Regions from separate parts of the Homo sapiens genome. Here regions 2 and 3 are each linked to region 1. The links come from fine-mapping of genetic effects on gene expression. A gene starts in region 1. Each other region holds a variant in brackets. All regions are shown on one strand. Distances are from middle to middle.

Region 1 (10,339 bases):
AAGACAGCATTAACCATAAAGAACATCTTTCCACTGGCATTCTTTTTTTTTTTTTTTTTTGAGACGGAGTCTCGCTCGGGGGCCCAGGCTGGAGTGCAGTGGCACAATCTCAGCTCACTACAACCTCCACCTCCAAGGTTCAAGTGATTCTCCTGCCTCAGCCTACCAAGTAGCTGGTATTACAGGCGCCCGCCACCACGCCAGGCTAATTTTTGTATTTTTAGTAGAGACGGGGTTTCATCATGTTGGCTAGGCTGGTCTCAAACTCCTGACCTCAAGTGATCCACCCGCCTCGGCCTCCCAGAGTGCTGGGATTACAGGCGTGAGCCACTGCACCTGGCCTCCACTGTCAGTCTTAAGCACTTTCTTCTATGTGCATTGTGCAGGTTATTCCCAACCGGGTCTCATAGCAACAAGATGGAGGGGATAGTATTATAAGAGGCTTTTCCAATTCAAAACTATCTTAATGTCAGACTCAGGCCGATTTAAAATCATACCAGTAGTTCATTAACATTATAAACTGGAATTTGAAATTAACTACAAAATTCCATAGCTCATCCCTGGCAACAAACTAAAGGACAAGACAACTCCTTTGGAAGTAGTTTTACTAAACGTACTATACTACAAACTTGAGAAAAAGTTTTAATTCCACAACTACAAAAGCACATTACTGCTTAACGGGCAATTAAGCAGAAACACAAACCACCACAACAGTGGTTTCCTGCAATGTTTGCATCCCTTGTCAGCTCTTTTCCTGGGGAGGAAGGTGGGGATGGGAAAGGAATATTGATACCTTACCTATCAAGCAGATAAGGCAGAGGATTTGTGCCTTACACAGAGAAGAAATATTTGACTGACATGTTCTCATAAATACATATGCATATTTTCATCTAATTTTACTGAAAGCAAGAAACAAAAGCTATAGAATACTACTAAGAATACAGTATTGCCACAAAACCACTGTGAGTGGTAAACACTAGAGAACTCATGACAGGCTTTAATCTGCAGATAGAGCATTCAGAATGTCTGTGATGTGAAATATCTGCAATATGCCAAGCAGCTTTTAATGACTGCCACAACCTGAAAACAGATGGCTTATCCTCTTTAAAGCACCAGCTAGTCAGCTCTTAAATATATGAGCTCTGATGATATTCAAGTCAGTATGTGTGTTTTATTAATTTTGTATTACATTAATTCTGGAGTCTGACATAGAGATGGATTACTCTGCGTTTTAAATAAAGGATTACATGCAGACCTTTAGGAATGAAAATGGTGACATTCTATAGCTAAGAAGGCAGGGGCAGGGTGGAATAACATGTATTCCAGTCTAGAAAGGTGATGATACATGCCATCTATAAGGTAGGATTCTAAACATCTAAAATTGATACAGAATCTTAATTGTCCTACTGACACAGGAACACTACGTCTGTTTTCTGGCTTCAGTAATTATACAATATTACTAAACTCCTAAAATTCTAAGTACTCTTCTTCCTGCAAGCTTTCCTGGAGCAAGTATTACTGGAAATAACAGTCTTCAAAGTATAAATCACACTTGCATGGTACATTAATGGTTAAAGCTCTTTCAGATATTTTATTTCATTAAAAGATCAATGAGGCTGGGCGTGCTGGCTCACGTCTGTAATCCCAGCACTTTGGGAGGCCAAGGCAGGTGGATCACGAGGTCAGGCATTCGAGACCAGCCTGGCCAACACAGTGAAACCCCGTCTCTACTAAAAATACAAAAAAAAAAAAAAAATTAGCCGGGCGTGGTGGCGGGTGGCTGTAATCCCAGCTACTCAGGAGACTGAGGCAGGAGAATCGCTTGAACCTGGGAGGCGGAGGTTGCAGTTAGTTGACATCCCGCCACTGCAATCCAGCCCGGGTGACAGTGTGAGACTCCGTCTCAAAAAAAAAAAATCAATGATGCAGTCTACGGCTCTGAAATTCTGGAAAAGTTATCTGTTTGGCCTACTGCTTCTTTGATAAATAACTGGAGCTGATAATTTTGATGAATATGCTAATTAATATCTCATGGTCACTGTCTCCAACATCCATGGTTCCAAATGTTTTATAAACATAACCTCACTGAACTCCCATAAATTTTGAGATATACTATTATTGTCTCCGTTTTATACACTGGAAACTGAAGCACAGAGAGGCTAAGTAACTTGCCCTAGGTCCCAAAGCTAGATAATAAACCAACCTGTTGTACCCAGGTAAGAACTAAGATGCATTAACTTTTGTGTAACTGAGTGTGAATGGTGAAGATTCGTCTTCTTATATGTCCTGTCAATAACATAGGTAGCAACATTTAAAAGGGAGATGTTTCTTTAAAAACAAAGGCTTTTCAAAATCCTTTAAGGATTATAAGCTCAAGATTTGGCCTAGTTTCCTAAAAACATCGAAAACCTCTTTCCCAAAAGGAGTGTTCTCCTGAGACAAGCACCAAGTGCTGTCAAGCTTTTTCCTCTGCCAGTTACAGACTCTCCCACAGGGAAGCACTTCCTGACTTGAAATAATGTTGTAACATTAAAATAACCTCCTGGCATGAGGTACTATGACATTAAATTTTATTAGAGTGAATTTTAAATGTTTTGTGAATCAAAACATTTAAAAGGAGTTAGTGTGGCGCTAGCACTTGATGGTACTGTCATAACTTTTAAATGCAAAACAAAACATAATTCATAGCTATATCTCCTACACATCACATGAGAAATTTAGAAACCAGCTGTGATAAACGTCCTCTGAGAGGTTCCTGAGGACAGGGACCCTTATCTTCTTGCATTTTTGCAGCCTTTATGCATTTCTGCAGTTATGCGTACTGCATGCAACTTGTCCTTAAGCATTTCCTAAAGACGTATCAATAGCGGTAAAGTATTATAATTTATAGCCAAAAGAATGAAGTTGGCAAAACAAGCTAAGAGCCCATTATGTCTGTCTTCTGAAATAGAGTCTGAACTGAATGTGTACAGAAATAAAATCGTGTCTAGTCATGCAATGGGTTAAGTATCTGCTCTTGGTAACAGCAAAGGATCTTTCACTTTCAAAAGAAAACAACGAAACAGGCACACACAAAATTTCTGCCTTTCTCATCCTAAACAGCTGAATCATTCACATATTCAACAGCCCAGAATTCTTCCGGGCTGTCAGTGCGGGCTCTGCTTTTTGAGAGGTTGGAATTTAAAATCCTCCTTAGGAGAGCACGGAAGAATTACAGGAAATTAAAGGGATTCCCAAAGGACGCCTGACTTAAACAGCAGCAGCGTTACCGTTAATCAAACAGGAGGCTCTGGCTATCAATCAATCTCCGGAGAAGGAAAAATACTATGCTGAGAAAATATATTCGTTCATTAGTCAAGTATTTACTAAAGGTGTACTCGGCGCAAGGCCCCTGGAGAGAGGCCAACAAGCACACCAGCTCTGGATCCCTCGCCGGACCGCCCCCTCCCCGGCGGGGCCCACCTGCAGGCGGGACGCCCCCAGGTGCGCGTTCCAGGCGCCGGGGGCGGCCCCCGCACCCACCCCTCCGGCTCCACCCCGGCGCGCCTCACCCGGACCGGTCTCAGGAGCGATACGGGCTTCAGCGTGGCGAAATGCACCAATACGACTCGCTACGCACTGAGAAGGGGGCCCCACGCGCGCCCCGAGCTACCGCGCCCGCGGGCCTCAGGGAGCCGCTGACCTTCTAGGTCGTGGGACCCCCGCACCAACCCGGGCCAGGGCGAGGGGGGCGATCTGGGGTCTCCAGAGGGCGCGTGAGGCTGACAGCCCCCCCCCCAGAGTGTTCTAGGGGCTTCGTGGGGCGCTTGGGGAGCTCTGGGGGTCCTAGGGGTTCTCTGAAAGGCGCGTGGGGGCTGAGGGTCCCTGTGAGACTCTGGGGATTCTAAGGGGGCGTGTTAGGGGATCCGGAGAGCGTGTGGGGGCTGAGGAACCCTGGGGAGTTCTGCCGGCCCTAGGGGGTCTCTAAAGTGCGCGTGGGGGCTGAGAGCCCCTGGGAGGATGCGGGGTTTCCAGGGACCCTGGGGGGGCCTGTGGGGTCTCTGGAGGGCGCGTGCGGACTGAGGGCCCCTGGGCGTCCTGGGGGCTCCAGGGGGCGCTGGGGGACCCTACAGGATTTCTGGAGGGCGCCTGCAGGCTGAGGGCCCCTAGACGTGGTCTGAGGGCCCCAGAGGTTGCGTGGGGGACTCGGGGGGTCAGCCTGAAAGGAAGGGGGCCAAGTACGGAGACCCCCCCCCCCCAGGGCACGCACGGTCTGGCGCTCACCCAAACAGCCCTCGGAGGAAGGAGTGGGAGGCCTTGACTCGCTTCTCGGCCTCCGCCATCAGCTGTACTGCCTCACGCTCCTTCCCCGCGTTGTCCATGTCGCCCGCCGCGGCCGCCACAGCCCCCTCAGCCGGCTCGCTGTGCGCCCAGGCGCCTTAACCCTCCCTCTGGCGGCCGCAGGGACGCAGGCGCAGGCGCGACGCGCGAGGCCTTTCGGGAGCTGTAGTCCGGGTCCTGTCATGGCGGCGGGGATTCGCGAGCCGCCTACTACAGTTCCCAGGAGGCCCCGGGGCGGGGTGTGTGTGAGCCGAGCTTGCGCACCGCTAGCTCCCAGGACGTCGGCGCAGGGGGCGTGACCCCCCCAAAGGGGTCCTGGGCCAAGGTGAACTTTAATTTTGTATGTATGCAGAAATGGAAAAATGATCCGTGGCCTCTAGTAAAGATCACCTCCTCAGTAAGACTCGCATGGCAATGGGATGGATGAAGGAACAGGGGATAACAGATTGGATGGAACCCACACCCTTCATGCAAGTTCTGCAAAAGAGAATCTGGTGTAGCCACCAAAGCATCACATGCTTGATACCGCCCACCAAAAAACGAGCAACAGCTGGCAATAAGAGCCATTTTTATCTCCAAGAGCAAGACGTCCCCAATATAAGTTCAGTTATTTTTAAATCTCCCCAAACTGTAACTTTCTGTTGGTCCTCTCTTCCTTGGTTATAAATGAGTTGCATATATGCAATATATGCATAATCCACTCTTTTGTTGACTGAATTATATTCAATGGATGTGAACCATTGAACTCTTATCCTTTACATAATACTGGCCATAGTGGATGGATCTCCAGGGACAAAATGTTTGCCTGCCAGGAAGACTTCTAATCTCCTAGGAGAAGTATCCATAGATAGATGGGATCCTGTGCCAGAGACTTTCAGGCCTGTCCCAGAGGGAGTTATTTTTGAAGACAATGTCTAGACCATTCAAGCTTGGCAGTGCTAAGGCAGAGATGCTGAAACTAATAAGAAAATCACTGCCAAGTGAGATTTATGACAGTTTCAAACTGTTAATAAATACACTCTGGGCACTGGCATGCAAAATTTTAGAAAATGAAGACTGTCTGTAGAGGGCAAGGCAAGAGGGGCCAAACTCCTAGAAAGAAAGTTGACTAAAGCACATGTCACAGAGTTCATACATTTCAGGACTCCGTAGAGATAGAAAGAAATCTCAGCTCTTCGTGCAGTTTATTTACGATTACTACATGCATTATTCTAACTTTGAAAAGCTGAGCTGTGTGTTTTTGGAGAGAGAAGGAGGCGGGAAATTGGAGGTGACCGTAAATGCAGGGGAGACCAGAGAAAAACTGTAAAAAGTGAACATAAGCATTTGGAAAGCAGAGCAGTCTATGGGGGCTTAATGGAGTGAGGCTAAGTCAAAAGCTCCTAAGTAAATCAGTGTGTTGATTAAATCAGTTGTTCCCTAACGTGGTTCGATGCAGAAGCTCTAATGGATATTTAAGAAATACTGATTCCTAGGCCACTGGGTTTTGGTATCAAGGTCTCTTGCAGCTGGGGTCTAGAAAATGCACATTTTGAAAAGAACTCTCCATCCCTATCCTAAAGCACACAGTTCTAGATTCTCATATCTGTAGTCAGTTGAAAAGGAGCTGGAACAGACTGCCTCCCCGAAGCTAGCACTTGCAATTAAGAGAGACATTTTTGGTGGTTTCTAGTAATTTCCTTCATTCTCTTCTTTGTCACAGGAAATTTGTGGGCACTCCCACCGTTCTGCCAGTCCACACCAAAGTGGGAGAAAACCTTCAAACCTTAATTACTGGGTAGAGCTAGTGTTTTATTCTCCCAAAGGCTGGGGGAGGAAAGGAGGCAGGGCAGAGAGATGAACCTCACAGAATAAGGCCTGACTAGAGAGACAGCTGAGGAATCCTTGAAACAAGAAGGAAAAGGAAAGGAGAAGCACCCCTGGTGTGGATCAGGAGAAGAATAGAAGTCATCTTGGAGAAGAGCCAAAGGACCCACTGCCCACACCTGCGCTGCCCAGGATGGAGCCACTCACCACTGGTGGCTATTTACATTCAAGTTAAATAATATTAAATAAAATGTAAAGTTCCATTTCTTGGCTGTACTAGCCGTATTTCAAGTGCTCAATAGCCACACATAGCCAGTGGCTACTGAAAGAGTTATAAATATAGCATCCTGGTGGATTGACTAAGTTAGACACCTGGTGGATTGACTAAGTTAGATACTTGAGGGCGGTGGCTCACGCCTGTAATCCCAGCACTTTGGGAGGCCAAGGCAAGCGGATCACTTGAGGTGAGTAGTTCAAGACCAACCTGGCCAACACAGTAAAACCCCATCTCTACCAAAAATACAAAATTTACAAAAAATACAAAAATTAGTTAGGTGTCGTGGTGCATGCCTGTAATCCCAGCTACTCAGGAGGCTGAGGCAGGAGAATCACTTGAACCTGAGAGGTGGAACAGAGGTTGCAGTGAGCCGAGATTGCACCATTACACTCCAGCCTGGGCGACAGAGTGAGTGAGACTCTGCTCAAAAAAAAAAAAAAAAGTTAGACACCCAAAAAACGACAGGTGCAAGAAGATTATTTTGACTTTTTCTTTTCTTTTTTGCATACAGAATACACACTGGACACTTTGACCTCTTGTTTCTTTCTTTCTTTTTTTTTTTTTTTTGAGACAGAGTTTCACTCTGTTGCCCAGGCCAGAGTGCAGTGGCTCACTGCAAGTTCCGCCTCCCAGGTTCACGCCATTCTCCTGCCTCAGCCTCCCAAGTAGCTGGGACTACAGGCACCCACCACCACACCCGGCTAATTTTTTGGATTTTTAGTAGAGACGGGGTTTCACTGTGTTAGCCAGCATGGTCTCGATCTCCTGACCTCGTGATCCACCAGCCTCGGCCTCCCAAAGTGCTGGGATTACAGGCGTGAGCCACCGCGCCTGGCCCCAACCTCTTGTTTATTTAAAGGCAAGAGATGAAATTCCCATATGAAAGATGTCCCTCTTATACTAGAACTAAAGCAACATTCTTATCATCAAAGACAGGAAGTTGAGGCTAAGAGAATTCTGTACAAACCCTATTAAACTAACCCTTATCTTCTTAGTCACTTTTCTATCCAATTAACTACCCTAGCCCAAGCCCCTCTGCCTCATCACATTTTCAGTTTACTATTCTTTGTCCAATTCAGTAAATAAGTAACACACTCTAACTGCCTCTTTGGGTTTTCATTTCCTTATGAGGCCTCCCATGCCATGTAAAACTTGTATCAAATACACCTGTGTGCTTTCCTGCTATTAACTTGTCTTATGTAAGTTTAATTTTCAGACTCCACCAGGAGCCTGAGATGCCCCCCTACACTACTATATGGACTGCACAGACAGAGAACAATTTTATCATTCCACAAGTCCTAGTGGATGGCACTAGCCTCTATGTGCTTTGCTTTTCAGAAGTTCTGGACACTTGTAAGAAAAGAAGAAAAAGGCTTCAGGGAGTTTCTGAGAAGGCAGAGCAGGAAAGGAGCGTAGCCTGAACAAGGCAGAGCCAACAGTACTGCTGGCTTTTCCCTGTGAGAAGATGGAGGTGGACACCTGGACACTCAGACTGAATCAGCACATACCCCGAAAGATGATCCATCAAGACAGGGCTGAAGCTACTTGAGAACCCCAATACTAAGAAAGCCAGAGTCAGAAAAGAACAGAATCGATATGGGGAAAGGGTGTAGCCATCTGTGTGTGTTCACAGAAGGGGAGAAAGCACCAGGCAAAGATCCAGTATGGAAAATTATGGGACATCACTGCTGCTTCACTGAAGCAAAGCAAGAAGGCTCACCCACATTAAAGGGGAGGGAAATGAGACGACATCTCCTGATGGGAGGGCCTCTGAGGATTTGCAGATGTTTTCACACCACGACAGCTAGGTTAGAGGGAGTCCGTGCTCACCCTGGTCCACTCTGGTTGCATTGACAAAGTTGGGAAGCTGGAGCCCCTACGCTGGCGTTGGGGGACAGCCTTCAGCTCACATGGCCCTGCATGGCATGGCCCAACGGTCCCTGCCCAGGTCTGCAGTGGCCTTCTCTGATGACATCTCAGCCTTCGTTCTGCCTGAAATGCTAAGCGTGGCTCAGAGTCATCGGACAAGGTCAAACCATCTAAAGCAGAGTGTTCTGCTTCAGAAGGCAGGGAAGGAAGAAGTCCATTTCAGGAGGCTCTTCACCCAAAATCGTTAAAGGAATGCATTAATGAAAATAAATCTTCCATCTGTGTGGATGAGGTTGTGCAATTCTAAGGACAGAATTTAATTGTTCTATTTACAGTGATTCTTTTCATTTTTCTCATAGACTAACAAAACCCAAGAACATTTGAATGGCACATTTCAGAGAAATAATTAAACAGCTTTTGTTAATCTCTAAAAAACTTTTTGAAACAACATCAGTTTAAGTGTTTGTGTGTTATGTGTGTGGGGTGACATTTCACACCCTGTGAAAACTGTTACAAGTTTCCCCAAATGTAACTTTATTAATCTTATTTAACCTTTCCTTAAAAAATTACTCTATAAAATTCAGACCAAAAAGTTAGAAAAGGTAAAATTAAATATACGCAAATATCTGTTACAGAAAACAAAAAATGGTAAATTAAGTTAAAATAAATGCTTATGAGAAAATATATATTATTGTCATTAGTAAGTGCTCTTCTTCTTCTTCTTCTTTTTTTTTTTTTTTTTTTTTTTTTTGAGACAGGGTGTCGCTCTGTTGCCCAGGCTAAAATGCACAATCAGGGGAGGAGCCAAGATGGCCGAATAGGAACAGCTCCGGTCTACAGCTCCCAGCGTGAGCGACGCAGAAGACGGGTGATTTCTGCATTTCCATCTGAGGTACCGGGTTCATCTCACTAGGGAGTGCCAGACAGTGGGCGCAGGCCAGTGTGTGTGCGCACCGTGCGCGAGCCGAAGCAGGGCGAGGCATTGCCTCACCTGGGAAGCACAAGGGGTCAGGGAGTTCCCTTTCCGAGTCAAAGAAAGGGGTGACGGACGCACCTGGAAAATCGGGTCACTCCCACCCGAATATTGCGCTTTTCAGACCGGCTTAAGAAACGGCGCACCACGAGACTATATCCCACACCTGGCTCAGAGGGTCCTACGCCCACGGAATCTCGCTGATTGCTAGCACAGCAGTCTGAGATCAAACTGCAAGGCGGCAACGAGGCTGGGGGAGGGGCGCCCGCCATTGCCCAGGCTTGCTTAGGTAAACAAAGCAGCCGGGAAGCTCGAACTGGGTGGAGCCCACCACAGCTCAAGGAGGCCTGCCTGCCTCTGTAGGCTCCACCTCTGGGGGCAGGGCACAGACAAACAAAAAGACAGCAGTAACCTCTGCAGACTTAAGTGTCCCTGTCTGACAGCTTTGAAGAGAGCAGTGGTTCTCCCAGCACGCAGCTGGAGATCTGAGAACGGGCAGACTGCCTCCTCAAGTGGGTCCCTGACCCCTGACCCCCGAGCAGCCTAACTGGGAGGCACCCCCCAGCAGGGGCACACTGACACCTCACACGGCAGGGTATTCCAACAGACCTGCAGCTGAGGGTCCTGTCTGTTAGAAGGAAAACTAACAACCAGAAAGGACATCTACACCGAAAACCCATCTGTACATCACCATCATCAAAGACCAAAAGTAGATAAAACCACAAAGATGGGGAAAAAACAGAACAGAAAAACTGGAAACTCTAAAACGCAGAGCGCCTCTCCTCCTCCAAAGGAACGCAGTTCCTCACCAGCAACAGAACAAAGCTGGATGGAGAATGATTTTGACGAGCTGAGAGAAGAAGGCGTCAGACGATCAAATTACTCTGAGCTACGGGAGGACATTCAAACCAAAGGCAAAGAAGTTGAAAACTTTGAAAAAAATTTAGAAGAATGTATAACTAGAATAACCAATACAGAGAAGTGCTTAAAGGAGCTGATGGAGCTGAAAACCAAGGCTCGAGAACTACGTGAAGAATGCAGAAGCCTCAGGAGCCGATGCGATCAACTGGAAGAAAGGGTATCAGCAATGGAAG
Region 2 (10,339 bases), 26 kb before region 1:
GGGTGGAATACCTGAGGAGTTCAGGACTAGCCTGGCCAACATGGTGAAACCCTGTCTCTACTAAAAAGATACAAAAATTAGCCGGGCGTGGTGTGGGCACCCGTAATCCCAGCTACTTGGGAGGCTGAGACAGGAGAACTGCTTGAACCGGGGAGGCAGAGGTTGCAGTGAGCTGAGATCGCGCCATTGCACTCCAGCCTGGGTGACAAGAGTGAAACTCTGTCTCAAACAAACAAACAAACAAAAAAATAAGTGTCTACCGGAGTCCAAAACTAAGCAAAATGGCTGAGAAGAGTCAGATGATAGTGTGTGCTGCTGTTTTTAGCACAGTTTTGTAAGAGCTGAACTCTGCAAAGAATCAGCTGGTTTGTAGACGGTGGTAGACAGCCTTAGAAATAAAGCTCTCATAAGATTGAAAAAACCTTCTATACCCCAAATAACAAGAGATAAGTATGAGCAGCTCTTTAAACCAGGGCTCTAGCCAAAGTTTTTCTCTAACAGGTCAGACAAGAAATATTTTAGGTTTTGTGCATCTTTGTTGCAACTACTCAGCTCTCTTGTGGTAGCATAAAAGCAGCCATACACAAGATATAAATGAATAAGTGTGGTTGTGTTCCAATAAAACTATATTTATGAACAATGAAATTTCTAATTTCATATAATTTTTACACGTCGCAAAATGCTTTTTTCTCTCAAGGATTAAAAACCGTAAAAACCATTTTTAGCATGCAAACATACAGAAGCAGGTGGTGGGTTTGCAGGATGCTTGAATGACAAAGGTTTCACAGCAAATGCAAATGAGGGAGCTAGCAGTCTCTGAAAATCAGATTAAAGGTGCTGCCTTTCTGCCCAAGCCCATTAGTTAAGTGGCTTCAAGGCAGCTCCTAGTGAGTTAGAAGAGATTTGCAGGGACAAGAAAACAAATAAAACAAAACAGGCCATGGAACTATAGGCAGCTTTCATTTGTGATGCACTTTGTCTTCATTCACTTAGCATCTGTTACTGAGCACCCACTTTGTAAATAGGCATCATGCTAGGCTCAGGGCTGTGATGGTGAGCGGAACAGTCATGGGCCCTGCCCTCACAGAGCCCACATTTTAGAGGGAGGAGATGTACCTTCATCAGGTAATCTCACATGTGTGTACATGACAGCTCTGACAGGTGTTCCAAAGAAATATTTTCTTCCAGAGAAATATTTTCTTCCAGACTATTTCTGTGTGTGACTAAGTATTTGCAAAAAGAGAACCATAGTACACCTGTTCTTTTATAGCTGCATTTTAAAATTCAGTATTCCGTGAAGGTCAGGCATGATGGTCCATGACTGTAATCTCAGCATTTGGGAGGCCAAGATGGGAGGACTGCTTGAGTCCAGGAGTTTGAGACCAGCCTGGGCAACATGAAAAGACCTCATTTGTATGAAAAATTAAAAAATTAGCCGGGCATGGTGGCACATGCCTGTAGTCTCAGCTACTTGGAAGGCTGAGGTGGGAGGATCGCTTGAGCCCAGGAGGCTGAGGCTACAGTGAGCTGTGTTCATGCCACTCCAACCTGTCCAGCCTGTGGAACAGAATGAGGCACACGCCACCATTCCTGGATAGTTTTTTTTTTTATATTTTTAGTAGAGATGGGGATTTCTCATGTTGCCCAGGCTGGTCTTGAACTCCTGGGCTCAAGTGATCCTCCTGCCTTGGCCTCCCAAAGTGGTAGGATTATAGGCATCAGCCACTGTACCTGGCCTTTTTTTTTTCAAGAGAAAAAAAGAGTATGTCACATTTCATTTTATCTGCTCTCAAGTTTATGGAGACCCATGTGTTGGAGACCATGCCTGGGCAGCAGAAATGACACAGCACTGCAGGCTCCTGCCCCAGAGTGCCCTTCTGACCACTGTGAAAGAGGAAGCTGGAACAGGAGCCTCTGCTGGCAAAGATGCTCTGCGCACAGTGCTCATCCCCGCAAGACTCACTCAAACCTAAATAAAGATACTGTGGCCATCCCAGACACCCTGACCAAATAAATACCCCAGCCACACCAGATCCATCTCCCTCCCATTCCATCATCAATTCCACACCAGGGAACAAAGGAGGTTCAGATCCAGCTCCATCACCTGCCTCCAGGATCCACAGATAACCTTCCAAAGAGAAGGCTCACACACACGTCAATGCACAGGGTGGCCCTGACTTGATCAAGATCAGGGAGTATCCTCAGAAAAGTATGGCAATTATAAAAAAAAAAGGTCAAATAATAAATTTTATGTAACAAATATGAGCAAATTTTGTGCTGAATAACCAACAGGTGGAGGTCACACAGTCAAAAGAGTGAACGTTAACAATGCCAGTCCAATTTCAGTAACGCCTAGCAGATCCTTCCCCAGACCAGGAAGACTCCATTTGGTATGGTGGAGGTAGGGGTAGCATTTGTTTATTTAGCAAATATTTAGACCCCACTAGGTCCCAGAGTTCTGGGCTCTTGGGACACATCAGCAAAGCAGAGACAAAGCTCTCTGCTGACACGTGTGCCCAATCTGGCGGAGGGAGAGAGACAACCAAAATGAGAATGATGAGCAAGCATATGAGAGGGCATATTGTAAGGAGACATCTGCTCAGCAATACAAGAAGTTAAGTGAGGTGTGTGGGGATCTACTATGTCTTCCTGGGGGGCTAAATTAACTAGGGGGTCATAATAGTTAATCATGGAAATAGGTAATAAATGAGCAAAAATGGAAGGGCACGGGGAAGTTAGCCATGTGGACTTGAAAGATGTGAGGAGTCAGCCACGTGGACATCTGGGGAAGAGCTTTGCAGACAGAGGAAATCGTGGATACAAAGGTCCTGAGGCAGGAGCGCTCATCTGGCATGTGTGCGGAACAGCAAGGAGGCCAGGATGGCCATGCAGGGTATGCAAGAGGAGGAGAATAACAGAAAAGAGGAGAGGCCAGGCCACACAGATGCATGGGGAGTGTGGGGCTGGGAGGAAGCAATTCAGTGGA[C/G]CCATGAAGGCTCTGCACAGCTCCAGCTGTTCCTCTTAGTGAAAGGGGTCTAATGACTGTCAGCAGTAGAGAAACAGAGTATGATGCAATGCTTAGAAGGCTCACTCTGGCTACTCTGTGGCATGGGGATGTGGGGTTGGCAAGGTAGGGAGAGCAAAAGCAGGGAGACCGGTTTGAAGGATCCTGCAGCGATCAAGTGTGAGCTGAGAGACAAGGTAGTGAGTTGTGCCAAGACTTGGGAGCAGGAAGGACACCGCTCACAAAAATTGCTCACAGGTTGTAGAGAAAGAGAAAAGGCAAGGAAGCCTGTAGTTTAGCGGGGAACACTGGGTTGGGGACATCTGAGAATCCAGTCCCAGACATGTTGGGTTAGAGATGACTGCTGGACAAAGTGGAGAGGTCAGCAGGCAGGTGGATACAGTAATCTAGCATTTGGAGAGAGGTCTAGGCTGCAGTCAGATTTCTGAGTCACTGGCACACAGATACTTAAAGCTGTGATGCTGACTGAGTGTACAGAGGTGACCTCTTACACTTTCTTCACTGGGCCTTAGAGTACTAAGCAATACAGCTGAAGGTTCTTTTGGCAATGCTAATGTTCTGACATGAATCAGAGAGAGTGGAAACAACAGGTGATCTCTGTAAATCTTAATCAGCTCTCATGTCTTAGATGTCCACTCCAGGAAAACAGCCCATCTACTTAGCCAGCTAGTAGACTTTGCCAGAAAGTCTCCAGGCAAGGCCATCTATGACCACTCTACACCTACGATCACTCTCAGACTGAGGAGAGGAGAGTTCTTTGAGTCAGCTTATCTGCCTGCTTCACATCTGAGGAAGTGTGCCCACTGCTTACCTTCTCAATGTCTACAAGTTCAGTCTCATAGATCTCTGCAATAGTAATGTGGTGCTTGGCTGCAATTGTAAACCTTCCCTAGGGGAAAAAACAAGAAACAGTCACACACCGATTTTACCTATCTGAATGCCAGTTTGGGAACATAAAAAAGAAAGATAGAACTCTAAGCCATCTCAAGACTCCACCCCACAGCCACTCAAGCAATGCAATGTCTTACCATGTCTGTGTAAATGTCGATGGCTGCATTTAAGCAGTTGATAGCCTCTGAAGCGTAGGCATTTAAGAAAAACAATGAAAAATCCATTCAGTCAAAGAGGGTTCAGGTGAGGCTGTCTTCCTGGCTGTTATCAGAACGTTAATGAGGTATAATTTTGGAGTGGAGGGTGGGCAGGTTAATGAGAAGCAAACAAAAATCATGCACAAGTCCAGATTCATCAGCATGGCTTTGTTCCCAGCAGCTATAGTATAATTTAGGGAACTGTAGCTGGAGTAACATTGGCTTAGTTACTCTTAACCTTAAAGTGAGGACTCCATCCAGGCAAAAGACTGTATTATAAAGAAAATAAAACCATAGAGGTTGTCACCAACACTGATAAATTGTATCTGCTAAAATATGAATGCAAACATATTCCTCATTAATACCATGCATATATATTAATTTTGGAACATGGCACCACATCACAAGAACAATCACCTCAATAGATTCTACTCTCCATGCAGCCAAAAGCAAAAGCACTTTGAAATGCCTATTCAAACAACCCTTAAGCAAAGTCAACATTCTGTATAATGTTCAAAGATGCTAAATTGTAGCATACTAACAAAATGAAGAAACAAATCTAATAAATAATAATGCTAATAAATTTTACTAATTTTCTAAACAAGTGAGCCAAAAAATTTTCCCTATCATAAAATGATGGTGTTTATGATGCTGGCATACAGTGACAGCTCCAAGTTTATTACGTTTGGTTTAAAGAGGCAGCAAAGTAGAAAGGCCTGACTACAAAATTAGAAAGGTAAGCAGATGAACAAAAATTAAAACAATTTCCCTCTAAACTACATAAAAAATGTGGATCCCTGTTACACCTTTTAAAATACAGAATATAAAGAGAAAAATAATCTATCAATAATCCCGCTCAAATCCGTTGTTAGTACTCAGATGTACTTTCCTTTTGCGTTTATTAGACACATTTCTATATGCACAAACTTTTTTCTGAAAATGAGATTATACAACATTCAGTCTCATGTGCTTCTTTAATTGACATGTAAACATTTACCAGGTCACTGAAGATTCTCTGAAACCAGGGATTTTAATGCCTGCACCATATTCTAAAGTACTGATGCATTACAATGTTACCACTCTAACAGCTTATTTAACCTGTGTCCAGTTTGTCACTTTGGGAAATAAACTGTGATTAACCCTTATACCAAAGGTATTGAAGATACCCTATTTCTTTATGACATATTTATTCTCAAAATTTGGGATCTGTGTGTTAAACAAAATGGACTGCTAAAAGAAAAAGGAAAAACACAAAATTTCCGCTGTGCACGCGTGTGGAAGGTAAGAAATTAATACTTTTAATTACACTCTTCTAACTAAAAAGAAATAATCTTTGCAAAATTTTACCACATTAAATATCCAATTGCATTCTTTCCTCAAAACAAATACTTTGAAAAACTTTTTAAAAAACCAAATGAATACTGTATGAATCAGACTTTTTAACGATTGAATATTACAATCTCCCATTAACTGGATCTGAAAACTCCTTAGGTATTTAGGAGTAAGGGAACATAAGAGTTTCCTTTTATGAACAATATACATTTTCACAAAATTAAGATATAAGAAGTCTTAGATAAAATTAAAGGTAATTTCCAAAAAATTCTCTAAAATGCAATATAAATAAGAGTTTAATTAAATGATGCTATAAAGTAAACAGCCAGTATAAATTTAACATAATTTCTCCTCATAAAAGCCCCCAAATGATTAAAAAAGAAAAATCCCTAAGGTTATCAAAATTCTCTATTATTCCAAAATACAAAAATTCCTTTTTACCAGGACTTGAAAGCACACCAACACTGACCTTAACGTTGAGGGAAGTACTGACTGGTTAGTTACACACAGAGATAGCATGCTACATGCCTGGCTGTCTTACCTTGGGGATCTGCCTTTTTGTAAGCATTTCCAGCATCCACAAAGCTGGTAGCAGAGTCATGTTTGCTCTGAAGCTGCATGTGGAGCTTGGCTGCCTGACAAAATGCGTTTCCTGCAGCTGAAGAAGACACTACAATTAAACACAGAGGAACAAGTCCCCCCCAGAGCAGCCCATGCTGTAAGCACTGGACCTCCCTAGAAAAATTATATTCCACTGAAAAGAAGCATTCTAGTCAGAAGCAAAAATCCATGTGGTCCAGTGCACCTCGGGCAAATATAAAAATAACCAGAATCAAGTCAAACAGCGATGAAAGCTTCTCCACCTCAGCTCCAGCAGACTTTCCAAGTGTCCCTGGGCACTAAGCCACTATTCCCTGATCTGTCCATTCAATACCAGTAGCCAAGTCTTGGGCTACTCAATTCAATTCCACTAACATATAATAAACATCAGCTAAGGGCTTCAAGCCACAAATGATTAAAGAAAGGTAAAACACTGAGCGCAAAGATATTTGCTCACTTTTCTATCTTAGTGTCTCCTACACTTAGCTGTCGGTGTGGAAGAAACTGCTAATGAAGGCTTCATGGATAAAGTAAGTTTCCTAAAAAGTGAAAATCAGGCCCACAATTTTGAAATCCAGAAAAGTCTAAAAATCCAAATTTTTTTCTTTACTTTATAGCAAAATCTGACTGAAATTTATATGAGGTTTAATCTATTTTACCCCATTTAGTGTGAGAATTTACAAATTTCCCTGCAGAATCACTGATGGATCTGGTTGTGGGGTACCACCCAGGTCTCCAACTGGGACACAGTACAACATATAAGGTACATGAACTAATCTTTTTCAGAAAAGGTTTTGGATCAGGGACCATGGATTCTGGAGTGCTGGAAAAGAAAGAGGGAAGGAATCGCTAGCAGAGGAGTCACAGGAACACAGAAGAAATGCTTGAAGGTAAGAAAGGGCTGGAAGTGGAGGCCAGTGACAAGCCTGCCCTGACTGGAGGAGGCCAGTGGAAATCAAGGCTGAGGCTGCATCAGGCCACTTCCCAGAGGGTTTAAACATCAACATGCGAAACTTCCTGAGTTCAGAGAAAGCAACACAGCAGAGTGCCTCTGAAAAATGAGTCACATTGGGGAAGTCAGTACAGCAGAAATGGAGAGGAAAGAATCTGATCTACCAGGAAAAGCATGGTTAAGAATATCACAAAGCCTTTAGGTTTCTAAAAAAATTATCATAAAGCAGTACTCACTGCTGATATTAAACATTTGCTATAAATTTTTTTTGTGAGGAAAAAAAATCCAATTCTTTTCTTTTTTTCAAGACAGGGTCTCAATCTGTCACCCAGGCTGCAGTGCAGTGGCGTGATCACAGCTCACTGCAACCTCCACCTCCCAGGATCAAGAGATCCTCCTGCCTCAGCCTCCTGAGTAGCTGCATGTGCCACCACACCTGGCTATTTTTTATTTTTAATTCTTTAAAAAATTTTTTTGGCTGGGTTTGGTGGCTCAAGCCTATAATCCCAGCACTTTGGGAGGCCAAGGCAGGTGGATTACCTGAGGTCAGGAGTTCGAGACCAGCCTGGCCTGAACATAGCGAAACCCTGTCTCTACTAAAAATACAAAAAATTAGCTGGGCATTGTGGCAGGTGCCTATAATCCCAGCTACTTGGGAGGCTGAGGTAGGACAATTGCTTGAATCCGGGAGGCGGAGGTTGCAGTGAGCCGAGACTGTGTCACTGCACTCCAGCCTGGGTGACAGAGCAAGACTCTTGTCTCAAAAAAAAAATTTTTTTTTTTTTTTTTTTTTTTTGTAGAGACAGGTGCTATGTTGCCCAGGCTGGTTTTGAACTTCTGGGCTCAAGCAATCCTCCAGCCTCGGCCTCCCAAAGTGCTGGGATTACAGATGATTATACCTGGCCGTAAACATCCAATTCTGCTAAAGCTTCAGCTGCATCTCTTGTTCCAACTCCCTCTCCCCAGAGGAAATGCACAGTTCTCATGTGGGTTTCTGAACCTGAGGGCAAAGGGACAGTACAAACTCTGGAGCCCACCTGCCCAGGTTCAATTCTTGCTCTGTACCACAGTTTCTGATTAAAAAGAGTACCCAGGCATCTTTGAAAAATATGTAACCACCAGCATGACATGGGTAGTGCTATGATCTGAATGGCAGTATCCCCCCAAAATTTGTATTACTGGAGCCTGATATCCAATTTGACAGTATTAAGAGGTGGGGCCTTTGGGGGAGTGATAAAGTCATGAGAGCACCACCCTCATAAATGGGATGAGTGCCCTTATAAAAGAGGTTGAAGAGAACTGCCTTGTTCCTTCCACCACGTGAGGACATAGCAAGAAGGCGCCATCGTGGAAGGTGAGAACAGTCCTCACCAAATACGGGATCTGCTGGCACCTTGATCTTAAACGACCCAGCCTCCAGAACTCTGAACAATACGTTCATTTTCTTTATAAATTACACTAAGGTATTTTGTTATAGCCGCAGGAAGAAACCAAGGCACTGAACAATCAGAGTACATGCCAGCCTCAGGGCTAGAGCTGGAACTGAAGAAGCCCTGCTGGCCCCTTGTGAATCATGAGAGGCTGGTGGGTATCCAGAAGGGGCAAAGGCCACTGCCAGGACAGTGGCCAGGCACCTGGGGTACTTGGGGCAGCACTTAACCATGAAGTGGCAACTCAGGAACATATCTGGCTAAGTGGGAGCTTTAATGGGCTCTGCCTCAGAAGAACGTAGTAATAGCTTGGACTTCGCAAGTAAAGTGCTTAGAAGGGCCTGACTCACATTACACACGGTGGCCACTTTCATTATTACATGCAAATCTAGCCTTAGATCATATCTGTGGTTTGGCATATTGAAATGCCATCTTTTTTTTACAATCTACATCCTTGCTCTCCTGCTGGCATTTCATTTTTGATAACTTATCTATGTTTCCTGTCTCAGAATCAGTCATGGGCCATCCTTTTCTTGCTCAGTAATACCACAACACCCAGGCTCTTCTGGGCTACCTCCATTTCTCCAGACAACAGTAAGCGCTTTAATTTTACATTTTCACATTCCCACATTCCAAAACGAGTTGCTGGCTTACTTTTTCACTCTGACTATTCATTCCAATCACTGACAGCAAATGCTAGCTCGGTCTATCTAAACTTGGAAGTGTTGGGCCGGGCACAGTGGCTCATGCCTGTAATCCCAGCACTTAGGGTGGATCAGGCACTCCTCGTGGTCAGGAGTTCAAGACCAGCCTGGCCAACATGGAGAAACCCCATCTCTACTAAAAATACAAAATTAGCTGGGCGTGGTGGCACATGCCTGTAATCCCAGCTACTCCGGAGGCTGAGGCAGGAGAATCGCTTAAACTCGGGAGGCGGAGGTTGCAGTGAGCTGAGATCGCACCACTGCATTCTAGCCTGGACAACAGAGCAAGACTCCATTCTCGGAGGTGGAGGGGGAACTTGGAACTGTCTTTAAAGGATCATATATTAAATTAAATGGTCTCTGGGAAGCCACACAACTTAGGCTAAATTTCCTCACCCGCAAAACTGGTATAATACCTGTGAGGATGATCTCTCAAAAGCTGAGTATCAAACAAATTAGCTTAGTCATTATGAAAGAACTTTTAAAACTATAAAGAGATGCAATGCTGTTATGATCATCACCAATGCAACATGGATAGAACTTCAAGGAGTCTAATATTCATCCACTCAACAAATATACTGAGCACCTATGACTTTGCAGGTAATAATCCAGGGCCTGGAGATACAGCAGAGATAAAAACACACAAACATGGCCTTCCAAGGTTTACTTTCTAATGAGAATCACCATATAATAAAAACATGTAAATATAAATGAATAAAACATTATGTAATTTATTTTTGCTAGATGGTGATAACAGTGTTGGAGAAAGAAAAAAAAAAAAGTTTCCAGGAAGGACAAGATTGTTATTTTTAAAAGGGGTGGCCAGAGAAGACCTCACCAATAAGTTGACATGTGAAGAGGGAGCTGAAGGAAGCAGGGACCCAGCAACATTCTGTTTGGGGAAAGAGTAGGGAGACAGAGGGAACAGTACATGCAAAGGCTCTGAAGTGGGAGCTGGGTGCACAAGGAAGGGGATAGTCTTTGAGGGCCACTACAGAGACGTCAGCTCTTATTTGGAATGATATGACCTTACTTAACTTGTGTTACGTTACTTCATTAACACATTTATGCCTAGTGTTCCTTCACTGGAACGCTAGGCACGTGGGAGTTATTTATATCCTATCCTACTGCTCAAGGTCATCGCCAAGGTCTGATTTCCAAAATTCAAAAAATTGCAACCTCAGACATAAATGGAAACAGACTGGAAA
Region 3 (10,339 bases), 39 kb before region 1:
TCTTGTTGCCCAGGCTGGAATGCAATGGCGTGATCTTGGCTCACTGCAACCTCCACCTCCTGGGTTCAAGAGATTCTCCTGCCTCAGCCTCCCGAGTAGCTGGTATTACAGGCACACTCCACCATGCCTGGCTAATTTTTGTATTTTTAGTAAAGATGGTGTTTTGCCATGTTGGCCAAGCTGGTCTCAAACTCCTGATCTCAGGTGATCCACCCGCCTTGGCCTCCCAAAGTGCTAGGATTATAGGTGTGAGCCACCGTGCCTGGCCACCTTCCATTTATTTCATGCCACAAATACAGCAAATTCTCACTACTTAGTTTTTATATTTTAAATTATATTTAATTTTTTTTTTCTTTTTTTTTTTGAGACAGAGTCTCGCTCTGTCACCAGGCTGGAGTGCAGTGGTGCAATCTCAGCTCACTGCAACCTCTGCCTCCCGGGTTCAAGCGATTCTCCTGCCTCAGCCTCCCGAGTAGCTGGGACTACAGGCGTGTGCCAGCATGCCTGGCTAATTTTTATATTTTTAGTAGAGACGGGGTTTCACCATGTTGGCGAGGATGGTCTCAATTTCCTGACTCATGATCTGCCTGCCTCGGCCTCCGAAAGTGCCAGGATTACAGGTGTGAGACGCCGTGCCTGGCCTTAACTAATTTTACTTTATACTTATTTATGGGTCAGATTATTTTCAAAAGAAAAAATTAAAACAGCAAATTATAAGAATATAAATGGAATATTTGCTCCTGAACTAGTCTCACAGCTAAATTAGTTTTGAGTGTAAGTCGAATCTCAGCATGGCTAATGGAACTGTTTAATTTGTGTGATATATAAAAGGTGACGTTTGGAAAATACAACTTAAGGTATGCTGGAGTCATGTTCAAATAAATGTTTAGAATTCACATAATGAAAAGGAAAAGAAGTTTCTTTAACTTAAATCTTCAAATAATGTACCATGTCCCAAAAGCATAACTTACTGCTTCAGTGTAAGCTTCACTGTTCTGTTCTTCATGAGCTTCTAGGAGTTTCTGGTAGCATAAAAATATTTTAAAAAACAGTTCTGTAAGATGAAGTCCCATTTCTAAATATATACTTTAAGTATAATACCAATGTTGCCAAATATTGCACAAAACTGAGGAAATACTCATATACAAGTCAAGAGCCAAGTTAGGGATCTAGCTTCTGTAGTAACATTTCTCAGGTGCCTATTTCAGAACACAACTACATGTTTCTGACCTTAATTGCATTTGAACACCTATAATACGAAAGCAGGAAAGTACCAGGGCCCCTCAGTTAGCAGACTTTATAGATTAAAACTTCACTTCATACCCAATCCCACTTAGGTGTTGTCACCTAACAGAACAAAAGCATTTTTCTTCAAAGTTCTAATATTACTTACTTTCAATAATTTACATTCTCTTGAATCAGTAAATGCTGGAAACATTTCCTCATATTTCTCAAGAGCAAGCTGAGAGAGAAAAACCACTCATCAATTTCAGACTTACTAAACAAACAAAGCTTTCAACATTCTATCAGCTTCAAATAAGATCTACCTATATCCTATTAAGTGTTGAAAAAGTATGTAGTTAAACTCAAAAGCAGAATCAACATAGAAAATCTTTCTATTCTGAATTTTCCATTTCAATAAAGAATAATTTCTAAACTACTTTTTTCTGAGTTAGGCTGCTGCTGAGAAGACATTGTAAATGAAAATGAATTCTTAAACACTCACAGACCAGGTATCTGTATCCATCCATTAAATGGAGACGTTCTTAATACAGTCCAGATTCCAAATAAATTACATTTAGCTTCCTGCTCGAAGCTGACAGAAAGAACAGTTTCTCTTACTGGCTTTAGTTCTGCTCTTCCAACTCCAGACACTGGCCATGCCAAGGCTGCCTGTCTTTTTGCCTCTTGGCTCCCAGTGCTCACTGTGCTTTTCAACTTCTTCCCAGTCCTCACTCCAACACCATTTCTGAGCTTGCCTGTTGTTTTGGTTGTTTTTTAAATGGATATTATCCTACTCTTATTGTCTCCTCCCTTAGTTCCTTAATTTCTTTCTTTTTTTTTTTTGAGACGGACTCTTACTCTGTCACCCAGGCTGGAGTGCAGTGGTGCGATCTCAGCTCACTGCAACCTCTGCCTCACAGGTTCAAGTGATTCTCCTGCCTCAGCCTCTCAAGTAGCTGGACTTACAGGCACCCGCCACCACACCCAGCTAATTTTTTTATATTTTTAGTAGAAACGGGGTTTCACCATTTTGACCAGGCTGGTCTCAAACTCCTGACCTCAGGTGCTCCACCCCACTTGGCCTCCCAAAATGCTGGGTTTACAGATGTGAGCCACCACGCCTGGCCCCCTTAATTTCTTTAAAGCAAAACTACTGAAAAAAAAATGGTGGCTACCAGTGAACATATACATATATTTAAGCCTATAGCACTAAATATTCCCAGGCAGTGCCCCCCATTCAAGTACCAGGCTCTACACTGCTTAGCTTCTGAGATCAGACGAGATTGGGTGTGTTCAGGGTGGTATGGCTATAAACTATCAGGTAACTTTTGAGAACAGCTTTGACAGCTGTTAAAAGATTACAACTGGGACACATACCACAGAATAATACTTATTTTTAATGTACCCGTTTATTCTTGGTACTAACATCAAAATGAAATGATACCAAGAACAAGAGAGAATGTGTACGTATTCTTATGGGTGAAATCAGTCAATCAATGCTGAAGAACTCCTTACCTTGGCATTCAACTCGTCTACTATGAAGTGGCAGAGGGCAGCTTTGAAGAAGTAATCCTTTGCACTGTATTTCAACAAAGGATTATCCATTGTGTTTGCCCCAACCTAGGCACAGAACGCAGAGTTAAATTTAAAAGATTTACCCTCTTATATCAGGCAAAGTCATTCTCATCTGTTGTCCTTTAGAAAATAATTATGTATCTTATGTTTGTTTAGCTATGAAATATATTATTTTATCCGAATACCATATAGTAGAAATTTTACTAGACAAGACCATTAAATACATGAAGTCTTAACCAGTTAAAAATAGCTCAGAAGAATTCTGCTTCCAATAAGATGGAGTAAACATCCTTTCCCCTAATCCTCCCACTAAGCACTACTAAAAGCCCAGGTCATTTTCTAAAAAACAAACGTTTCCCAAGGGAAAACGTGGTAGTGGGTTCCCTCAGTTTTCTTTTCCCTTCCTATATCCATGGCATGAAACTGAAGAACCAGCAACCCAGAAATGCCAGTATGCACAGATAAAAAGAGAAGAGACAAAAGCCTGCTCTCTCTGGCCAAAGGACTAGAAAAGGGGCAGCCCAGCAAGAGAGAAAACACTTAGACAATAACTGCTCTACTCCAGCCAAATATCACAGAAAAACTGAGGCCCTAACTCCATTTACATCATCAAAGGCTGAAGAAGGAGTCCTAAAGTCCATTCTTGAAAGACTGTAAGAAGCACCCCAATACCTCTGCTTAGGAGCTTCAGAGAAGGCCAAATAGGGAGCTGAGGCTTGATCCCCACCCAACCCCCTGACACTAAGGCAGTGCAGACCACACTGGGAGCCTGCATCCTGTCTCTGTCAAGCAGGAAAGAGGTTCCCCTTCTTTCTCCAGCTGGTGTGCTGTCAGAAGAGGTCTAGTGGAGGGTGAAGACTCTCACCATACCAAGAACAAACCAGCACTGTGCTGGCAGAAACAGATAAGGAGAGGGGATGCCACTTCTGCCCAGGGCTGACTAGGCCCCTCAGGTGTCAACAGAGACCTGGTGGAAAGCTGACACTTCTACCTCCACCTGGCAGTAATGAGGTAACATCCCCACCTTCCCCAGCCAGAGGAATGTCAAAGAAGGCCAACTGAAAAGAGAACGTTTAAACAAGACCCAGTCTCATAACCTAATGTGCAAATGCCCTGTTTTCAATCAGAAATGACTTGTAATACCAAAAACACAGGAAGATCTCAAGCTAAATGAAAAAAGACCATTAACAGATGATGGTTCCAGATGACGGAAATGTCCAAAATATCCCACGAAGATTTTAAAGAAGCCCTCATAAAAATGCTCCAAAAAGCAAGTACAATAACACCTGAAGCTAATGGAAAAATGGAAAGCATCCACAAAGAAAAAGGAAGCCACAGGAAAAAAGATATAAAGTAAAAACAAATAAAAATTTCAGAACTGAAAAAAAAAAACAGTACCATACATAAAAAGTGGGTGGGCTCAACAGCAGGATGAAAGGGACAGAGGAAAGAAGCACTAAATGGAAGACAACAACAGGAACAACAGAGAGAAGACAAACTGACAAAAAGGAACAGAGCATCAAGGACCCATGGGATAATAAAACAGTCTCACTTTTGTGGCATCTGTGTTCTAGAAGGGGAGGAGAAAGAGAAAAGGGCTGGCTGGGCATGGTGGCTCACGCCTGTAATCCCAGCACTGTGGGAGGCCAAGGCAGGCGAACCACTTGAGGTCAAGAGTTCAAGACCAGCCTGGTCAACATGGCGAAACCTTGTCTGTACTAAAAATACAAAAATTAGCCAGGTGTGGTGGCAAGCACCTGTAGTCCCAGCTACTTGGGAGGCTGAGACAGGAGAATTGCTTGAACCTGGGAGGCAAAGGTTGCAGTGAGACAAGATTGCGCCATTAAACTGGCACGCCTGGGCGACAGAGCAAGACTCGGTCTCAAAAAAAAAAAAAAAAAAAAAAAGGAAGCTGAAAAAGTACTTGAAGAAATAACTGCTAAATGATTCTCAAATTTGACAAGAAACATAAACCTACAGATTCTGTAAGTTTAGGGAAACTCAAATAGCTTAAAACCAAATATATCTATCCAAGCCACATTATAATTAAACTTTTGAAACTAAAAGAAAAAAATTATGAAAGTGTCTAGAGAATAACACCTTTTTTATAGGGGAAAACAAGTTGAATGACAGCAGACTTCTTATCAAAAACAATGGAGGCCGACTAGGCGTTGTGGCTCATGCCTGTAATCCCAGCACTTTGGGAGGCTGAGGTGGGTGGATCACTTGATGTCAGAAGTTTGTAAAACCATGGAAGCCATAAAGTGCACATTTTTGAAACTAAAGGAAAAGAACAATCAACTTAGAATTATACTCCCAGGAAAACTATGTTTCAGAAATGAAGGCAAAATCAAAACGTTTCCAGATAGGGGAAAACTAAGAAAATTTGTTGTCAGCAGACCTACCCTAAAAAAATGACAAAAGGAGGTTCTCTAAATAGAAAGGAAACAATAATCTTGGAACATCCAGAAGAAAGAACATGGTAAGCAAAAATATGGGTAAATATAACAGGCTTTCTTTCTTGAGTTTTCTAAATTATGTTTGATGGCTGAAACAAAAATTCTAACATTGACTCATGTGGTTCTAAATGTATGCAGAGGAAACATTAAGACAACTATATATTGAATAGGGGGAGTAAAAGAACAGAAAGGGAGGTAAGATTTCTATATTTCACCAGAACTTATAAAATGATGACACCAACCTACAGCATTTAACCACAAAAGCTACACAAAGATATATACCATTGATTCTCCAACAACACTGGTTTAAACTGTGTGAATCCACTTATATACGGATTTTTTTCAACCAAATGTGGATTGAAAATACAGTATTCTTAGGAATTCAACACCCATATAAATGAAAGGCAGACTTTTTTATATGTGAGTTCCACAGGGCCGACTGTGGGACTTGACTATGCACAGATTTTGATATATGAGAGAGGTCCTGGAACTAATCCCCTGTAGACACTGAGGAATAACTGTACTTAGAAACACTGGAAAATCAAGTAGGCTGGGTGTGGTGGCTCACACCTATAATCCTGGCACTTTGGGGGACCGAGGTGGGCAGATGACTTGAGCTCAGGAGCTCAAGACCAGCCTGGGCAACATGGCAAAACCCCATCGCTACAAAAAGACTTGAGCTCAGGAGTTCAAGACCAGCCTGGACAACATGGCAAAACCCCATCGCTACAAAAAATAGCCAGGTGTGGTGGTGCATGTCTGTAGTCTCAGCTATTCTGGAGGCTAAGGCTGAGGTGGGAGGACTGCTTGAGGTTGGGAGGTGGAGGCTGCAGTGAGCCAGGGTCGCACCATTTCCCTCCAGCCTGGGTGACAGAGTGAGACCCAGTCTCAAAAAAAAAGAAAGAAAGAAAAAAAAGAAAAGCAACCCATAAAAAGGTTGGAAAAAGAAAACAGAGAAACAAAAAGCAAAGAATAGAAAGCAAAAACTAAAATGGCAGAAAGCAGAATTAAGCCCTAACATATAAATAACTGCATTAAATGTGAATGACCTAAATACACCAATTGAAAAACAAAGATTGGCACAGTGGATTAAAAAACAGGATCCAGGCTGGCTGTGGTGGATCATGCCTGCAATCCCAGCACTTTGGGAGGCCAAGGCGGGTGTATCACCGAGGTCAGGAGTATGAAACCAGCCTGGCCAACATGGTGAAATCCTGTCTCTACTAAAAATACAAAAATTAGCCGGGCATGCTGGCACGCACCTGTAATCTCAGCTACTCGGGAGGCTGAGGCAGGAGAATTACTTGAATCCAAGAGGTAGAGGTTGCAGTGAGCCAAAATCACTCCACTGCGCTCCAGTGTAGGAGACAGAGCAAGACTCTGTCTCAAAACAAACAAACAAAAAAAAACAAGATCCAACTACAAGAAACTCACTTCAGTTATAATGATATAGACAGGCTGAAAGAAAAAGAATGGACAAACATATCATATAAACATTAATCAAAAGAAACCAGGCAGGGCTATAAAGTGGATAAAGTAGACTTGAGCCAAGAAAATTACCAGAGACAGAGAAGGACATTATGTAATGATAAAAGGGTCTCTCCAGCAAGAATAGCAATCCAGAGCTGCAAAGTATGTGACGCAAAGACTGACACAATGAAAGAAGAGTCAGACAAATCCACAACTAAAGTTGGAGATTTTAACACCCAACTCTCAACAATGGATAGAATTAGAAAGAAAATCAAAGGCCAATCGCAGTGGCTCACACCTGTAATCCTGGCACTTTGGGAGGACAAGGCAGGCAGATCATTTGAGGCCAGGAATTCGAGACCAGCCTAGCCAACATGGCACACACCTGTAATCCCAGCTACTCGGGAGGCTGAGGCACGAAAATAGTTTGAACCTGGGAGGTGGAGGGTTGCAGTGAGCTGAGATCAAGTCACTGCACTCCAGCCTGGGTGACAGAGCAAGACTCTGTC[TGAAAGAAGA/T]GAAAGAAGAGAAAGAAGAGAAAGAGAGAGAGAGAAAGAGAGAAAGAGAGAGAGAGAGAGAGAGAAAGAGAAAGAAAGAAAGATCAGCAAGTATATTAAAGAACTCGACAATGCCATCATCCAACAGGAGCTAATCAACATTTATAAACATCACCCAATAACAGCATAATCATAAAACATATGCCAAGATAGACCATATCTAGGCCATAAAACAAAACAAATTTATAAGAATTGAAATCACGCAAAAATATGTTATCTAACCACAAAGGAATTAAAAATAAGTCAACAATAGAAAGATTACAGAAAAATCTCTGCTAGACACTTGGAAATTAAATAAAACACTACTAAATAATCCATGGGTCACTGAAGTCTCAAGGGAAATCAATAAATCCAACTAACTGAATAAAAATAAAAGTATAATGATATAATAAAATTGGGAAGTAGCCAAATGTATGAAAGGGTAACTGATAACACTAAAAATGCATACACAACAAAGATGAAAATCAGCAAGCTAAACTTCCATGTCAAGCACCCAGAAAAAGAGCAAAACAAATCCAAAGAAAACAAAATGGAGGAAATAACAATAAAAACAGAAATCAGTGAAAATAAAAACAAAAAAAGAGAAATAATTGAATTCTACCAAACATTTAAAGAGGAATTCACACCAATCCTTTACAAACTCTTCCAAAACACAGAAGAGGAAGAAGACATCCTAATGCATTCTGAGACCAGAATTACCTTGATTCCAAAACCAGACAAAGACACCACAAGAAAACTAACGATCAATATCCTTTATGAACATAGACATAAAATCCTCAACAAAATGTTAGCAAACCAATTCTGGCACTTACAAAAAGTAAAGTCAGCCACAAGGGTGGTCAACATCTATGTCACTGGACCCCAATAAAAACTCAGAACACCACGTTCAGGGGAGCTTCCTTGGTTGGCAGCAGTCTACGCTTATTTTCACTTATTACTGTGGGGGGAAGTAAGTGCTGTTTACATAACTCCACTGAGAGCCGACAACTGAAAGCTCTTCCTGGAAGTCTCCTAGACCTTGACCTATGAGTCTCTCCTTTGAGTTTAATCTGTACCCGTTTGCTGTAATAAACCATAATTGTGAGTATAACAGCTTTCAGTGGGTTCTGTAAGTTTGTCTAACAAATTATTAATAAACTTGAGGGTGTTCTTGGGAAACCCCTCAAAGTTTGCAATGACCAAGTAGAATTTATTCCAGGAATGTAAGGTTGGTTCAACATATGAAAATCAATCAATGTAATCTACAATATTAAGCTGATTAGGACAAAAACCATACGCTTATCTCAATAGATGCAGAAAAAAGTTTGACAAAGGACAAAAACCATGTTTATCTCAATAGATGCAGAAAAAAGTCTGACAAATAAAGGACAAAAATCATATGTTTATCTCAATAGACACAGGAAAATGCCTGACAAAATCCAATACCCTTTGATGATAAAAACACTCAACAAACTAGGAAGAGAGGGGAACTGCCTCAAACTGATAAAAGCATTTACCAAAACCCCACTACTGATATCTACCGCTATCACACTTAATATGAAAGACCGAAAGTTTTCCTTACAAGATCAGGAACAAGACAAGGATGTCTGCTCTTGTCACTTCTATTCAACACTGCACTGGAGATTCTAGCCAGGGCAACCGAGAAAATGAAGTAAAACACATTCATATTGCAGAGGAAGAAGTAAAACTATTGTTATTTGCAGATAACATGATTTTGGATATAGAAAACCTAAGAAATCCACACAAAAAAACCTATTAGAGCTAATAAGTTTGGCATGGTTGCAGGACAAAAAATTGATATGCAAAATTCAACTGTATTTCTATACACTAGCAGTTAACAATCTTAAAAGGAAATTAAGAAAATAATTCAATTTGTAGTAGCGTCAAAAAAAAAATAAAATACTTTGGAGTATATTTCACCCAAGAAATACAAAACTTACACACCAAAAACTACAAAACATTGTTGAGCAAAATGAAAGAAGATCCAAATAAATATAAAAGGAACCTGTATTCATCGACTGTCAGACTTAGTATTGTTAAGATGGCAATACTCTCTGTGATGACTGATTTTATGTGTCACCTTGAGTGGGCTACAGGGTGCCCAGATATTTGGTGTTATTCTGAGTGTGTCTGTGGGGTGTTTCTGAATGAGATTAACGTTTGCATCAGTAGGATGAATAAGCAGATTGCCCTCCCCAATGTGGGTGGGCCTCATCCAATCTACTGAAAACCTGAATAAAATAAAAGGTTAAAAGGAAGAATTCATTCTCAATGCCTGTCTTAGAGCCAGGACACTGGTATTCTCCTGATTCAGACTTGGACTCAGATTAGAAATTACATCATCAACTCTCCTGGTTCTGAGGCCTTTGGATTTGGACTGGAGCTATACCATTGGCTCTCCTGGGTCTTCAGAATGCAGATCTTAGGCCTTCTCAGCCTATATAATCAAGCGAATCAATTCCCTCCAGTAATTTCTCTCTCTAAACACACATACACACTCACACACACACAAACACACACACATACACCCCTACACCTCTTATTGGTTCTGTTTCTCTAGAAAACCCTAAAACCACTCCAAATTGGTATGCACATTCCATACAATCCCTATCAAAATCCAAGCTGGCTACTTTGCAGAGATTGACAAGCTGATCCTAATATTCGGATGAAAATGCAAGGGATCTGGAATAGCCAAAACAATTCTGAAAAAGAACAAAAAGCTGGAGGACTCACACTTACTGACTTCAAAACTTACTGCAAAGTTACAGATATAAACAGTGTAATACTGGCACAAAGATGGATAAATAGATCAATGGAATAGAGAGCCCAGAAGTAAGCCCTCATATTTCATATGGTGAAATAATTTTCAATAAGGGTCTTAATACCATTCAATAGTTAAAATATAGTTCTATTCAACAATTAGTGCTAGAAAAACTGGATATCCACATATAAAAGAATAAAGTTGGACCCTTACCTCATACTATATACAAAAATTAACTCAAAATGGATAAAAGACCTAAACCTAACAGCCAAAACTATACAATTCCTATAACA

Evidence for each region. PIP is the estimated chance that this variant, and not a neighbour inherited with it, causes the effect. A credible set is the group of variants that fine-mapping cannot tell apart.
Region 2: its variant is the best candidate, but not a certain one, in a credible set for the expression of NAPB in whole blood (TOPMed, PIP 0.59).
Region 3: its variant is the best candidate, but not a certain one, in a credible set for the expression of NAPB in whole blood (INTERVAL, PIP 0.87).

Annotation. Positions count from the first base shown.
Region 1 is chr20:23,417,042-23,427,380 of GRCh38, forward strand. NAPB (NSF attachment protein beta) reads right to left here and starts at 4,447. Exons shown (of 11, transcript NM_022080.3): 1 at 4,264-4,447. The coding sequence starts at 4,361. RefSeq lists silencers at 3,436-3,665, 4,296-4,385 and enhancers at 4,636-4,825, 8,743-9,450.
Region 2 is chr20:23,391,086-23,401,424 of GRCh38, forward strand. It overlaps NAPB (NSF attachment protein beta), which reads right to left. Exons shown (of 11, transcript NM_022080.3): 3 at 5,987-6,103; 4 at 4,054-4,100; 5 at 3,837-3,914. Among named protein-coding and RNA genes, the nearest start is that of NAPB, 25 kb to the right of the region's middle. RefSeq lists an enhancer at 636-1,175. The variant C/G (reference allele first, on the strand shown) is at 2,987.
Region 3 is chr20:23,378,474-23,388,812 of GRCh38, forward strand. It overlaps NAPB (NSF attachment protein beta), which reads right to left. Exons shown (of 11, transcript NM_022080.3): 8 at 2,740-2,844; 9 at 1,394-1,462; 10 at 972-1,022. It also overlaps the pseudogene RNA5SP479. Among named protein-coding and RNA genes, the nearest start is that of GZF1, 21 kb to the left of the region's middle. The variant TGAAAGAAGA/T (reference allele first, on the strand shown) is at 7,238.